4 linked regions of the Homo sapiens genome follow. The protein of the gene in region 1 purifies or fractionates together with the protein of each later gene. This does not show direct contact. Each region holds a gene or a part of one and is shown in the gene's direction. Other genes may lie near its edges.

Region 1 (3,937 bases):
GATTCAATTATATGTCTTAATTCTAAGTATCAGTATTCCACTTCTCCCTATTCAGTGCCACCTCCCATGAGAAACTTTGCAACACTGAATTTAACAGATCTCAGAATTAGCAACCTACACAAGTAAATTGAGATTTTGAGCAAAATCTCAGTAAAATGTCAGAGTCTTCTTGATCCCACAGTGAAAGAGGAATAAATAACAAGTTCTAAAGAAAAGAGGGGCTAGTCACTATTGTTAACATTTATTACTTACCATGTGTCATGGGCTTTGCTAAGTAATTTAAAGGCATCTTTTGGTGTCATGCACTCACTTAATTCCTTTCACTGCACTCAGAATAAACCCCAAATCTCTGTTATGGCCTTCTGGGTCCTAAATGGTCTGCACTCCTGCTGACCTCTCAGTTTGATGAGGAAGTTTCAGCCACACATATCTTCTTTCCACTCTTCTCAGCTTACATGTCACCTCCTCCAAACTGCTTTTCTAAAGTAGCTCACTCCCCACCTCATTACTTTCCACATCAAGACCGTGCTTCTTTATATTATCACCATATTATTTTACTTATTTTATGCTTTTTCATTGCATGTTTAGTATTTTTATTTATGTTTATTTACTGCGTGCTTATTATTTTTACTCCATGAGACTGTAATCTCAACTCAGGCATAGACCATCTATGGTTTGTTCACATTGCACTGCACCAGAAAGGATCTTAAGAAGCATGTGTAGAATTCTCACACCTCTAGAAGTTGGACTACATTATTTCCTACTGCTTTTTAAATAGGCAAACGAAAGCTTGGAGAGCCACGTTAACGTATCCTAGGTCTGTCACAACCAACTGGTGGCCAGGGTCTGTGGATCTTCAAGCTGGAGTTGGTCACCTCCTAGCACAACTCCATAGGAGGAAGTGAAGCTCAATACAATTCCCTCCTGTCCTCCAACGATAGGGGCAGCAGGGTCTGTACCCAGAGGAAACAAAGAGCATCATCATTATCATCACAAACTGGTGTGTGCTTACCGTATTGATGATGTGCCCAGTCCCCACCTTGCCTGAGACCAGAACTCCCAGCCAGCACCGGCCACGCACCCGCGGAGCTGCCAGGTAGCACCCGCCCCCTCTCTCTGCGCAGGCGCGCGCCTCCTGCTTCCGCTCGGGGCGGGGCTGGGCTCCCGGGGTAGGTCCGCGGCTGCTGCTGCGTCCGACCCCCGGCCGGCGCGGGTATGGAGCTTGGGGGTCACTGGGACATGAACTCGGCCCCGAGGCTGGTCTCGGAGACCGCAGAGCGGAAACAGGAGCAGAAGACAGGAACCGAGGCGGAGGCTGCCGACTCCGGTGCCGTCGGAGCCCGCCGCTTCCTGCTCTGTCTCTACTTGGTGGGCTTCTTGGTGAGTGCGAGCGTGGGGGCTGGGAGCAAGTGCTGACTGTGTTCGGGCCTGGGGACCCAGGCGGTTCTTGGAGCTTCCGGGGAGCTCCCAGGGAGTGGGAACCCGCAGTCCGCCTGGTGAGTGCCTCACTACCTATCAAGCTCTCCTCTTGCCCTATCACCCACTTCAGTCTGCATCTGGCCACACTGCTTTATTGCCCCTCGCGCTTTCTCTTGCACCCCGTTCGCGGAACGTCTTCCCTTCCCTGCCTTTTGAGAAGCCCTGGTACCAACCTCAGGTGTGACCAGGTGTTAAATGCTGTGGCAGGTGCAGCTTTTGCAGGGCGGAGAACAGGGGTGTGGGCAAGCTTGGAAAAGCCCAGCTGCTGTGCGGCTGCTGGTGAGGTAGGGACACGCAAGCCTTTTTACCAGAACAGGCAGGGGAGGCCGCTCTTGACCCCGCTTGGACAGATTTAGGCACATTTTCACTAGGATTCTTGGTTGACTTAAATATTAAAAAATGCAGATCAGAGTGAATTTTACCCATCTGCCTTTCGACAAACTGCGCATTGCACAGCGTAGGTTTGGTTTCATCATGATGTGTGTGCCTGTGGTTTGCTTTTTTACCAGACCAGGCTGGAGAAGCCGCTGTTGATGACCCCACTTGTACAGAATTGGGTGCATTTTCACTAGAGCTCTCGGTTGACTTGAATGTTTAAAAATGCAGATCAGAGTGAATTGTACCCATCTACCTTTGGACAAAGGGTGTGCATTGCACAATGGCGGTTTGGTTTCATCGTGTGTGTGTGTGTGTGTGTGTGCGCGCGCGCGTGTCCTGGTTTGCTCCCTGAGTGCTAATTTCCCACGTAGAATGGAAAGTTTAGTAAGCTGATTCATGGCATTTCTGAACACCTGCCATGTGGCAGGTGCTGCGGAGCTTCACTATTGTAATCCACAGTTCTGCCACAGAAGAATTCAGTCTTACAAGTAAGCTGATGTTGGTAGTTTCTGGGCCATTATCTGCAAGAACCCTAGATCCACCTCTGCACTCCTCCCTTTCCAAGGCTAGGCCTGATTCAGCCCTGAGTGTGAGCTAATCCAGTATCTTGAGGGTAAGGAAGCTGCGATAAGTGTCAATGGGAGAAGGCTGCCTTTGAGGCCTTGAAGATAGTATCTGATGGCACTGGGCCCTGGCAGGGAGTCATCGTTTTCTGCCCAGATGCAGATCAAGACCACCACTTCTCCCAGTTTCATGCACTCTCCATGCCACCACCTCCATGCAAGGCGTTCAGTTGGTAGCAACTCTATGTTGAGTTAATAGTTAAGATCACCATGAAAGCATGTTCATCAAATTGCTGCAAGCCCAGAAACACAAGGTCTTCAGGGAGGGCGGCTTTTTAGAGAGGATTTCTCTGCCTCTAGGCCATTGCAGGATCCACCCTCCAGCTCCATGCCTTTAACTTCAGAGACTGGCACTCCTTCTGACCACTATTCCTTTAATCTAGTAGTTCATTCTCAGCATGGGGATGCTTCTTCTACTTTTCAGTCTAGGCACCTAGAATTCACAACCAGTGAGTATGGGTGGTTCTTGGAGAGGAGTTGGCTGACATCCAGCCTTTTTAGTTATGGGTCCCAAGCTACTGCTGTCCTGTCTCAGAAGGGACTTGGGCTGGTTCAGCCAGATGAAAACATTTGAGCCCTTACCTGGAAAGTCCAGACTAGGGTTCAGAGAATTTGACTTAGAATTCAAAGTAGTTTTAGTATTAGAATAAAACAAAGCAATTCGCAGATCATTTGTTAAGGTCAGCCTTCCAATACAGATTTGAATATTCACAATTTATCATATGTTTTCTTTATGCTGTGTATTTGGCAAGTCTAATCTAGCAAGCCTGATACAGAATTTTAATAACTTTAATAATGTATTCAAGAGAACCATTAGGTGTCTCATATCTTAAGGGAAAAGTTTATGGTTTCCCAAAAGTTGAAAGAGTAGGGATTTTTTTAATGGAAAATATTGTAAACAATTAAATATATGAAGCTTTACATGAAAGTCACATAAAGCTACCTAACAGATGATTGTTAGGTAACATCTAAGGAACATTATACATAATTTAGTTTTTTTTTGACATATTTAGGGATGTAGAGACCTCTAAGATTCTTGGACAAATGGTTTCTGAATGGGAGAGGAAGGGAACAAGCTTAGAGAAGTCATTTGCCAAATTGTTCTGTTTTAGCAGTTATCCGTACTTCCAAGTTTTAATTTGTTTAGGAGGGAAGACCAAGATGACCCTTGAGGCCCGTTTTGTTTAGGATGCTTAGATGGTGATGAGATCTATTATTTCAACCACTTTTTTCCTCCAGATACTTGGTGAGATTTGTTTTCCATCCCATCAGCTTTATTCAGGTGATAATTCATTTTCATTGAGATAGTCCAGTAATCAATAATTACTGGGGTTCCTACCCTGAAAAGAGTCTTGAAACTTTTGAGTGTACATATTCATCAATTTTTATTGAAAAATGTTGATATTCAGTGAAAGTTTAAGTGGCCCCTTCTGACATGATCTTTTTACAAGTGGTTA
Region 2 (3,500 bases), on another chromosome or scaffold:
GTACCTCTTCCCTAATTCTTCATTTTGAGACACTCCACAGTTTGCTTGGTGTGGGTTTACCTTTGAGTTTTTTTTTTTTTTTTAACTATTACAACTGCACTATAAAGTTACTATTGTTCCTTTTAATAAATACCTTGTGGGGATATACTTTGAGACTATGCAAATTTCTTGTTTCTCGTCACCCTTTTTCCCATTGATTTTAGCATCCATTGACTTTTTCATGAAGCAGTTATTACTGGTATTTGCTTAATAGTGATTCTCTATTTCTCTCACCAGAATATTCATTTAACCAGTGTCATCCACTGCCACCATTTTATGTGAAACGAACTACCCTACAATTAGCCCACGATTTTCATTGGTATTTGTAGAGTTTTTCACCACTTAATTAGCATGTGGTCTATAATAGTGTGCTCACTATGTTTGTGGCACTATTTGGGTATTAAAACAACAACAACAAACAGCAACAACAATAACAACAAAATAGCTGGGCACCTGTAGTCCTAGTTATTCAGGAGGCTGAGATGTGAGGATCACTTCAGCTCAGGGTTTTGAAGTTACAGTGCATTATAATTGTGCCTGTGAATAGCCACTGTACTCCAGCATGGGCAACATAGCTGTACTCCAGCATGGGCAACATATTTCTAAAAACAAAATAAAACAAAACAAAATAGGATAATGTAGTAACTAATTTTGGATAGCTTGTAGTCTGAGGAAACTAGTGTAAGACACATCCAATAGCTATGAAGTATTAGAATCATAGAATGTTAGAAGCCAAAGGATTCGTTGAATAGTTAGTTCAGATATGGTTAAGTAGCATTCTTAGGATTCAAATAAGTAGAATATACCTTGTTGGGAATTATTTTGCTAGTAGACCAAGCCCTCTGGCACAAGTTTAATTTTTCCTTGAGTTCCCTTACCATATATTGGTTATTTAGTCGCTGTACTAATGACTCAAACTCGTGATACCATAAATCGCTAAGCAAATAGATATCTGTATCATTTTGATATATCTTTGCCCTTAGAGATCCTGGCTTAGGTTTTTCTAATGGTGTTTTCCACATTTTGAAGCATGTTTTTTTTCTTTTTTTCTATCTTGGCCCATATCTCCTACTGTCTTCCTACTCTTGGATTATGACATAGGCAACCATTCACTCATATGAGGTGCTTTAAATTGCTGTTCCTAGTAAGATCTCAAAAGTAATAGGTAAAAACTTGTTTGAGTGGTCATCCTGTGCTTAAACCAATGTACTTAGTCATCTTCTTGAAATCTCACCTCTCTTTACCAGAAAATGAGTTGAAGCTGGCCATATTGTGTATTGTGCTGTGTACAGTGTTGAACTTAGTGGTTCTTGGTGGTGAACTTAGGAGTCCAATCTGGTAAGGAGTGGAGTAGCTAAAAAACTTGCTTGGGACAAGCACAGCAGTTTTACTTGGCTCTTATGCTTATTTGAGGTGGCTTGGTTTACTTGGTGCTGCCATTGGTTATGGTTGTCTTTTTTGAACAATCCCTCCCACCCCCAATAAATGATGCATTTAAGATGCCTGCTCTTTCCAGAGGGAGTCTCGTATTCCATTCTTCTTGCCTCCTATCACAGTTTCTTCCTGAGAAATGATAGAAATAAAAAGCTCTATCTCTTTTTATCTGAGTCACAGTTGTCTCATCTGTAAAAGGAGAGGTGAAGTCCGACGGCTAGGAAGTAGAGGAAGCAGGATATCAAACCCAAGTAAAGTCAGGCTCCAGAATCTCTTTCTCGCTCTGTTGTCTCTTCTTGATCAGTTCCTTAAGGCTGTGGTGACGGTGAAGTGAGATAAGGCATGTAAAACAGCGCAGTGTAGAGCTCTCCGTAAGTTTTTAATGAAAAGTAAATATGATTTTTGTTAGAAGGTAGTAGCTGATCTACAGTAGAAGAAATGTCTGAGCAGTAACCTTTTGAAACATAAAACACAATTTTGCTTTGAAACAAAGTGCAGTAGATTTACAGAAAATGAAAATGTTTATATGGAACAGTTGGTTGTATGGCTGAACATGTAAGATTTGATTATCAGTTGAATATTGTATCGTTAACAGAAACTTCTTTAAGTATTTCACAGTGATATATAATGGCATTTAAAAAAACCTTTTAAACCTAAATTCACTGATTTTTAAGAATTGAGGGAGCATTGCAATGCATAATTAATACCGTAGGGCTTGGTATACTTAATTGAAATACTATTCCTATTGGCCTTGTTTTTCTCAATTGAAATGAAAGTTGATTCTCAGTTTGTGGTCAATTTTCTACACTTCTGATAATTTTGTGGTGGACCTGAGTTCCAGAATAATAAGTGAGAATAGCTTAGAAAGAGAGAGAAAGGCTTTTATTGAACTGGAAATTCTACTGATGGTTTTGCCATAGAAATAGAATTAATTTACATGATCTTTAAAATTAATATTCATACACCCAGGAAGGATATCTAGGGTTATTTCTGTATTAATCATTGGACTAGGTAGGAATGTCTAAGAAAAGAGTATGATTATTTCATGTGTTTTCTTTAGTGATCTTTTACATTTTTTTCTGTATTATTATTATTATTTTTTTACTTTGTTGCTACATTGTAGCTTAGCTTTAAAGACTCTTCTGAAAGGTTATTATGTTAGTGTATGGCCCCTTCACTTTCTAAAAGAAGTGTTTAGCTTTTATTAGATATTTGTGCATCTTTGCATTGTGTAGCTGCGAAAGGGATATGAGCTTGAATTCTTCGCAGAGGAGTATTTGAAGAAAGCCTCAGATAATGTTATTCTAAGAAGAATCCACATGCTATAATTATATTTCTTATTAATTTGGGGGGAATTTTCATGTAATTAGAATATTGGCTTTATTTAAAAAATCTATATTCAGGCATCAAACTTTAGTTTACTAAGTAATAACCCTTACCAGAATGATTGCTTGTGCAATAAGGAGAAATTATATATTTCTCTAGGGGAAAAAAAGGTTCAATAGAAGTATAGTTTAATAATATTTTATTATTTAACTTTTGACAAAGTCGACTGAATTTGCCATTGTTTTTATTACACATTTTGTACAGTTTTGCCGTATTGGTTGAATTTTCCTTAGAAACAAAACAATCAATATATGCTTTACTAGATTAAATCTGAAAAGTGACCTTAATATATGAAGTCATGCTCTGGTATAAAGATCATATAGAAGATAGGTAAAGAGTAAATGCTTCTTTATTTTTAATTGTCTTTTTATTGAAGGGAGATGTTTTCAAATGTATACTTGAAGATGTTTCTCCTTTCTCCATTCTGCTGTCAAGTTGCTTAAACAGTGAGCTGTATATACAGTGAATACATTTAAGCTGCTAGGGTGAAACTCCTAACTGAATGACAGTTCTCCATTTCTTTTTTCTTTTTTTTTTTTGAGACGGAGTCTTGCTCTGCTTCCCAGGCTGGAGTGCAGTGGCGCCATCTCGGCTCACTGCAAGCTCCGCCTCCTGGGTTCACGCCATTCTCCTGCCTCAGC
Region 3 (3,500 bases), on another chromosome or scaffold:
CTTACGGATGGGACCTTCTCCATCAGCATCCCTGGGTCAGGTCCTGGGGTTTTGCTGAATGGAATTTTCTTTCCATGTCTCATCATCACCACTTGCTGAACCCTGGATGACAGAAGACACACACTCACTTAAATCTTTAGACTCTGCCTGGGTCACAGACCTCTTTCATTAATTCACATCATTTTGTTTCAAAATGGGTGCCTGGCAGCAAATCCCCCGCTCTAGTTTTTGGTGAGTGAAAGTGACTGACTGCTCATCCTATTTCAACAAATATGTACTGAGCACTAGCTGTATACCAGACACTGCACCACTGAACTTTGTTAAAGAAATTCAGACCTTTGGAGCACTAGCTTTTGAGCGAGGATAGATTTTCACCTGGACTCAGAGAAACAAGGGCTGCTGTTTATGGAGCTCGGGTTCTTGGGCTCCAGAAATCCCCATTTCCCTCCTTCCCCTGGTGGCCTGCAGGGCATGCTGTGGCCTGCTTAGCGCTGCCCCTGCGATCGAGGAGGATTTCGTTTCTTTAAATGCCCCAAGAGCCAGGTTCTCTGAAGAAACTGGACATTTGCAGCCCAGGGGGCCCTCTTGCAATGTAAATAGTGATCTCATTTATTCAAGTCATGGATTGGGACACTCCTGGGTGGGTTTTCTCATAGAGAGGCCAGTCTGCTGTGTTGGGAAGTAAGAACCTTGTCACTAGGTTGGGACACTCTGGGGAGTGTGGCCTTTACTCCTCTCAGGACCCCTAAGTCCAGCCCTGCATTGTTCCTGAGGTGGATCCTGCTGGGGGCAGGTGTCCCCTCCTTGGGAGGTGGGTTTTCCTGGAGGCCAGTCCCTGGCACTGAATCCTCATCATACCTGTATGTTGTCCCTTAGGTATCCCCTGTTTCCTACCTGAGGGTTTCCATGAGCCCTGTCCTGCACACCCAGAACAAGGAGGCCCTGGTGGCCGTGCCTTTGGGAATGACCGTGACCTTCACTGTCCACTTCCACGACAACTCTGGAGATGTCTTCCATGCTCACAGTTCGGTCCTCAACTTTGCCACTAACAGGTAGGATGTGGGCAAGGGTCATTTCTCCTATGAAGTCCTGTCTGGTACCTGGTAGAGACAACTGGGGATAACACAGAAAGTCTGCTGCTGTTGAAGGAAGATGTGTATTACTTCAGTTTCCAAGAGATGTGGGCATGCTGCACCATGCAGGGCCACGAGGAAACACCACTGCCCTTGGGGGATGTAGACCAGCTCAGAGGAAGACAGACAGGCATCAGCCCCCAAAGGAGGAAACAGGGCATGGGGCAGCTCCAGGGAGTGCTCCCCGAGGCACAGGAAATTGGCCCTTCAGCTTCGGCTGCCCACAGGTCCTGCCACAGTTGTGTTTCCCTGTTGCTGAATGCATTCAAAGACAGGTGTCAGGGGTGTTGCCTTATGGAAAGAACTGGGGTTTAGAGTCAGGCCTGGTTCTAGCCCCAGCTCTGCCCTTCGTGGGCCCTGTGAGTAGGTCACCATCCAAAAATCTGTTTCCACACCTCTCACGTTGGGCAATATGGCCTAGGTTCCAGGGCTTTCCTTCAGCTGAGGGAGTGGTCATGAGGACCGCTGGCAAACCATGGCACTCCGTGTGTGCGCACATAATTGCCATCCATCAGTTTAGGGCATGTCCTGGAGGAAATGGAGCCCAGTTCTCCCAGCCCTTTGGCTGCACTGCAGGTCATTCTGGCCTTCTTGTAGCAGGAGCACCTGATAGAGACCTAGTCAGCACTCAGGGTCAGAAGGTGTGGTGGAGGCAAGGATGCAGCCATGATCCCTAACCCAAACTGTCACCCCACGCAGTCCACACTTCTGCACCAAAGCTGCCATTGCCAACATTGACTGAGCACCTGCCCTGTGGCAGGTGCCTCCCCACTGCTGACCTCATGTAATGCTTATGCCAGGCCTGCGTCACGGTCACGTGATGATCCCCATTTTTCAGAGGAGGAAAGGGGCAGAGGCTGCTTCTGCAGTCAGGTTGCATAGTAAGGGCAGCCTTCCCTTTCTGGCATGTCCAGTTCCCTGGTGGGAAGAGCGTGAGGAAGCACTCTGGATCTCTTTCCCCTCGGGGCCTCAGCTTCCTTTCTGAAATGCAGGAATGATGCTGCTGCCACTGTTTGGCTGCGAGCTGCATGTGCTTTCTGGCATGACAAGTGAGGAGGTCGAGCCTGTGCCACCTGCCTGCAGTGGTCCCTCATCTGGGGCCACTGCTTGGTAACCTCGAGTTGGGGCCACACCTGGGACCTCAGTCAGTTGAATGCTTTGCTCAGCAGAGGACATGGATTACGTTTCTCCCTTTGGGAGTTGGAAGCTTCTTTCCCGAGACTGAGAGCCCTCCTTTCTCTCCTGTGCCTAGAGACGACTTTGTGCAGATCGGGAAGGGCCCCACCAACAACACCTGCGTTGTCCGCACAGTCAGCGTGGGCCTGACACTGCTCCGTGTGTGGGACGCAGAGCACCCGGGCCTCTCGGACTTCATGCCCCTGCCTGTCCTACAGGCCATCTCCCCAGAGCTGTCTGGGGCCATGGTGGTGGGGGACGTGCTCTGTCTGGCCACTGTTCTGACCAGCCTGGAAGGTAAGATAGATCCTGAGCAAGGGAACCTGTGGAGTCACGGACGCTTGCAAAGCTGGGTGGGGGCTACCTGGGCAGGGGCTCGGCACCAGTCACGGGGGCCTACAGGCAGACCTGCAGGATACTCAGGAGCAGTGCTCCAAAACTGCTGCCCGGAGACCAGATCCAGCCTGTGCCTGTTTTCTGCAAGTAAATTTTTGTTGGCACTCAGCTGTGCCATGCATTATGTATGGTCAGTGGCTGTTGTCACCCTACCACTGCCAGATTGTGTGGTCATAGCAGAGATTGTATGGGCTGCATAGCCCAAATGCTTATGTCCGACCTTCACAGAAAGCATTTGCCAGCCCTTTTCTGGAACAGCTCTGCCAAGTCGGTGGGGGGGTCCCCTGCCCCTGTGGGGCATCCTGTCTCTGCATAGTCTCACTCAGTTCCTCTAGCCAGGAGACACACGGATCTCTGCTGCTGCTGAGGAACTGAATTCACCATTTTAGTGAATTCTGTGGGAAGTGGCCGCCATAGTGGACAGCACAGGCTGGGAGACTTAAGCAAAGAAGGACACTGGGCTAAATCAGGGGCTTCCAAATTTCAGCCATGCCCAGGTGACCTGTAGTACATCTGTGGAACACGTGTACAATTATTTACTTAGCTTTTATTTTCAAATTGTCTCCACCTTTTTTTTTAACCTTACTAAATTCATTTTAAAAGGAGATGAAATACTACCTTTAAGGAAAAACAAATATAATTTGCCATAAATAGATTATGGTTGAGTCCTTTAATTGTACTTATTATATAATGTGATTGGCTTTTAACTCAGATGTGTATGTGGTGAAAGCTCTGAGCCTCACACCTGCTGTCTGTTGCTAAAAAGGAATTGATAAGGCAACGAAGGGATGGGGA
Region 4 (3,500 bases), on another chromosome or scaffold:
ATAATTATTTTATCTTAGCCTTTATTGTATTATTGATCATAGGTCAAAAATAAAATCTAATTTAGCTCTGATTCTATTGGAGAATACTATATGTTTTAAGATCCAGTGCATCTTTTAACAGAGCTTCTAAGAAGAAAACAGGAGTAAGTTTATGGTCTATGAAAATTGAATCCAATTCTTTTATTGTAAAGGAAATACATATTATTTATAACAATGTTTTATTATTACATTTGTAGGTTGTTACTGGTGTTCTTCGACGAACAGATGAGGTGAGCATTAAAGAGTAATTGCATTTTAACTTTTATTTTTCTGTTCTTTTTTATTGCTTTTCTTTCTTTTACTTTTTTTTTCCATTGTATATTTTAAAACGGGTACAAATTGTGCTTTCTTGAATTTTAGAAAAGAAAATACTGCTACCCATGTCATAGAACACGTATATTAACACATGGGGACTTTTCTGGTTTGGTAATTGATGGTATCCAATAACTTTGACAATGGTTATTTAAAATTTTGTTATGGAATCTTTTTTTCAAAGAACTTTTTCATAAAAGAAATTGTGGCATATTCATATAGTGGGAATCATCTAACAGTTAAAATGAATGAACTAAATGTATAAATATCTACATGGCTAAATCTCAAAAGTTTTGAATAAAAAAAAAAGCAGGTTGCCCAGGTATGTTATGCATTTCTACAGTGTTTTAAAATTCAGAAAACAATACTATGTATGGTTAATGGATGCTTAAATATGTAGCAAAAGAATAATAATGTGGATGAAAAGGAATCACACCAACCTCAGGATAATGGTCTCCTCTGGGAAGGGAGAGAGGAGAATAGTTTTAGAAGGGACTTTCATTGTATCTCTATCGTTTTATTTCTTGAAACATATGAAGCAAAAAGGTAAATGTTAACATTTGTTAAATATAGGTTGTGGGCACATGGGTGTTTTTGTAACATTATTTTATGCACTTTTCTACAATAGCTAGAAGATCCTTCTCAGTCCCTTTGGTAATAGTACATTGTGCTCAGAATTGTTTTGAACCTTACAGTATCTATTGTATGTGTGGCATTTAATTAACTGCTATGCCAGTACCATCTATTATTTGAACTTGTTTATTCTCTTTGCCTTATTTGTACTTAAGATAGTTTATAAAGCACCTTCACCTGTCATTGGTCACTGTATAAATGGTAGACATTTTTAGTTGAATTTTATCTGCAACTTTATCAAATAGTGTGACAATGTTATACAGTCTCTGTTGCACTAGTGCATTGATATATTATCTTCAAAACCCTCATTATCTTAACCAAATTTCTTTCAAACAGTTGTCATTAATGAGTACTAAAATATTTCTTCCAAATTCTGAGTCATTTTGTTTTCATTGACTGCCTTGTTTTAGAAATTACCCACCTAGCTTTATTTGATTACTGGTCTAAGGATGTGGAAAGGAGATGGGGAGGCAGATACAGGGTCAGTTATTTGTCATAGTGGACACACCTGTGCTTCTCCATTAAGCCTGATTTTCTGATCATAACAATAAAACTTTCCTCTTCTTTCCCCCCCCAGGCTACCTTCAGTAAGATTCCCATTGGATTTATCCCACTGGGAGAGACCAGTAGTTTGAGTCATACCCTCTTTGCCGAAAGTGGAAACAAAGTCCAGTAGGTTGTCAATGTGGGGAATTAGCATTTGTGGGTGAGCGAGACTGGGAATGAAAAATTTATGTGTATGCTATAACTTTCTTGAGTTTTGATAGCCTGAAACTTCAAATAATTAAGAGGAGGACCTAGATCAGAGTTCAGCCTTTCAGTTCATTGGGAAGTCTCCCAACTTGGTTGTGGGACTCTTATAATAAGTCTCCAGGTCAGGTAGGGAGGTGAATACTTGATGTCCTTTTGTCAGTTATGAAGATAATATCCCTGACCTAAACCGTTTTTGTGCTTGTACATTGTAAGATTCTTTAGTGAAGACATATTTGTGCTGCTCATTTGTTTGCTTTAAGTATATGCAATGACAAATAACAAGTCCCTTGTGAAGACTGAACTAGTAGCCTGGCTTCATTATCTTGATATTAAAAATAGCTAAAACAAGTAAATATAGCCACATCCTTTTGGGAATACTTAAAGTGGTAGACAGTGTAGACAAAGTAGACTGGGAAAGCAGTGTAGCTCTGACATCTAAATTAAATTGCTGTGAGTCTCACAGTGTTTTTGGGAGTCAAGCAAATTGTTGTTATTATTGTTCTTTTTTGCTTGAAGGCATTATGTAAACAAAGCTCTGCTCTTTCAAGAAGATAGGAATCTTGAATTTGAGCTTTGACAGTGATTAATAACATCATTTTGAGCAAATAGTTGTCAAGAAGACCCAAATAAATGGAGAGATAGCTGAGAGATCAGTTGCCTGATGGTTAACGTAAGCTTTGTGACACATTGGAGGAAGTCAATAAATAAATATTTGTTGCATGATTTAATGAAAATTTTCTCATGATTTTTCTGGTTATAATCTTCTAGAATAAATAATAATAATACCCAAGTGATTTTCTGTTTTGGTTAAGGATTTTTTTTTCTGCTTTGGAATTCTTTGATTAGGCTGGCTTTTGTGAATTTATTTTTGCTATTGTAATGTTAGGAGTCAACTGTATCTCTTTTAACAATTCTATATTTTAATAAGCATCTTAGTCCAGTTTTCAAAACACTAGGCATACACACATATATATATGTCAGATCTTCATTCAAACTTCTTTTATATTTCAAACCTTAATATAATGGGGATTATTCAGCTATTCATTAGCCATCCTGAGGGCCTAACTACAGGAGAGGCCATTTCAGTTGGCCATCCTTTTTTTTTCTTTTTCTTTCTTTTTTTTTTTTTTGAGACAGAGTCTCGCTCTGTAGCCCAGGCTGGAGTGCAGTGGCGCGAACTCGGCTCACTGCAAGCTCCGTCTCCCAGGTTCACGCCATTCTCTTGCCTCAGCCTCCGAGTAGCTGGGACTACAGGCGCCCGCCACCACGCCCGGCTAATTTTTTGTATTTTTAGTACAGATGGGGTTTCACTGTGTTAGCCAGGATGGTCTCGATCTCCTGACCTCGTGATCCGCCCGCCTCGGCCTCCCAAAGTCAGTTGGCCATACTTTTTATTCCCGGTTTAGAATTTCTGAGGGGCAGTAGATAATGACAGTTAATTGCTCACATTTTTGCTTTTCCAAGATGAATCCTGTCTGATTCAGGTGTTGGTTACATTAGAGAGCTTGTCTTCTCCTTGTGTCAGTGTAGATTTTTTGAATTGCTTTAGCCAGTATTCCAAATAGCATATGTCATTGATCCAAGGGTAGACCATTTTCCTTGGAGACCCCTTGCCTGTCCAAAAGCTAATTTACACAGAGTGTGGCAACCCCCAGGGTCTGAGAGAGTCTTCAGTTTGGGGGAACTGATTTTCTCTTGTAGTTAAACTACTACTGTTGCTGCTGCTATTTATAGTTTAAAAATTTATAAAACTTAATTTATAA

Evidence for each region. Proteins that work in one complex are often made in the same cells at the same time.
Region 2: the proteins of SLC67A2 (region 1) and CDIN1 purify together in Homo sapiens (affinity purification with mass spectrometry; one large-scale study listed by BioGRID and IntAct). This does not show direct contact.
Region 3: the proteins of SLC67A2 (region 1) and NUP210 purify together in Homo sapiens (affinity purification with mass spectrometry; one large-scale study listed by BioGRID and IntAct). This does not show direct contact.
Region 4: the proteins of SLC67A2 (region 1) and AGK purify together in Homo sapiens (affinity purification with mass spectrometry; one large-scale study listed by BioGRID and IntAct). This does not show direct contact.

What each region holds. Positions count from the first base shown.
Region 1 is NC_000002.12:102,734,089-102,738,025, reverse strand, and holds the start of SLC67A2 (major facilitator superfamily domain-containing protein 9), read left to right. Parts: upstream 1-1,137; 5' UTR 1,138-1,215; coding exon 1,216-1,380; exon of another isoform or gene 1,381-1,496; intron 1,497-3,937.
Region 2 is NC_000015.10:36,586,126-36,589,625, forward strand, and holds part of CDIN1 (CDAN1-interacting nuclease 1), read left to right. Parts: intron 1-3,500. UniProt on the Homo sapiens protein: Plays a role in erythroid cell differentiation.
Region 3 is NC_000003.12:13,326,323-13,329,822, reverse strand, and holds part of NUP210 (nuclear pore membrane glycoprotein 210 precursor), read left to right. Parts: intron 1-876; coding exon 877-1,052; intron 1,053-2,385; coding exon 2,386-2,606; intron 2,607-3,500. UniProt on the Homo sapiens protein: Nucleoporin essential for nuclear pore assembly and fusion, nuclear pore spacing, as well as structural integrity.
Region 4 is NC_000007.14:141,613,910-141,617,409, forward strand, and holds part of AGK (acylglycerol kinase, mitochondrial isoform 1 precursor), read left to right. Parts: intron 1-236; coding exon 237-269; intron 270-1,561; coding exon 1,562-1,656; intron 1,657-3,500. UniProt on the Homo sapiens protein: Lipid kinase that can phosphorylate both monoacylglycerol and diacylglycerol to form lysophosphatidic acid (LPA) and phosphatidic acid (PA), respectively. Does not phosphorylate sphingosine. Phosphorylates ceramide.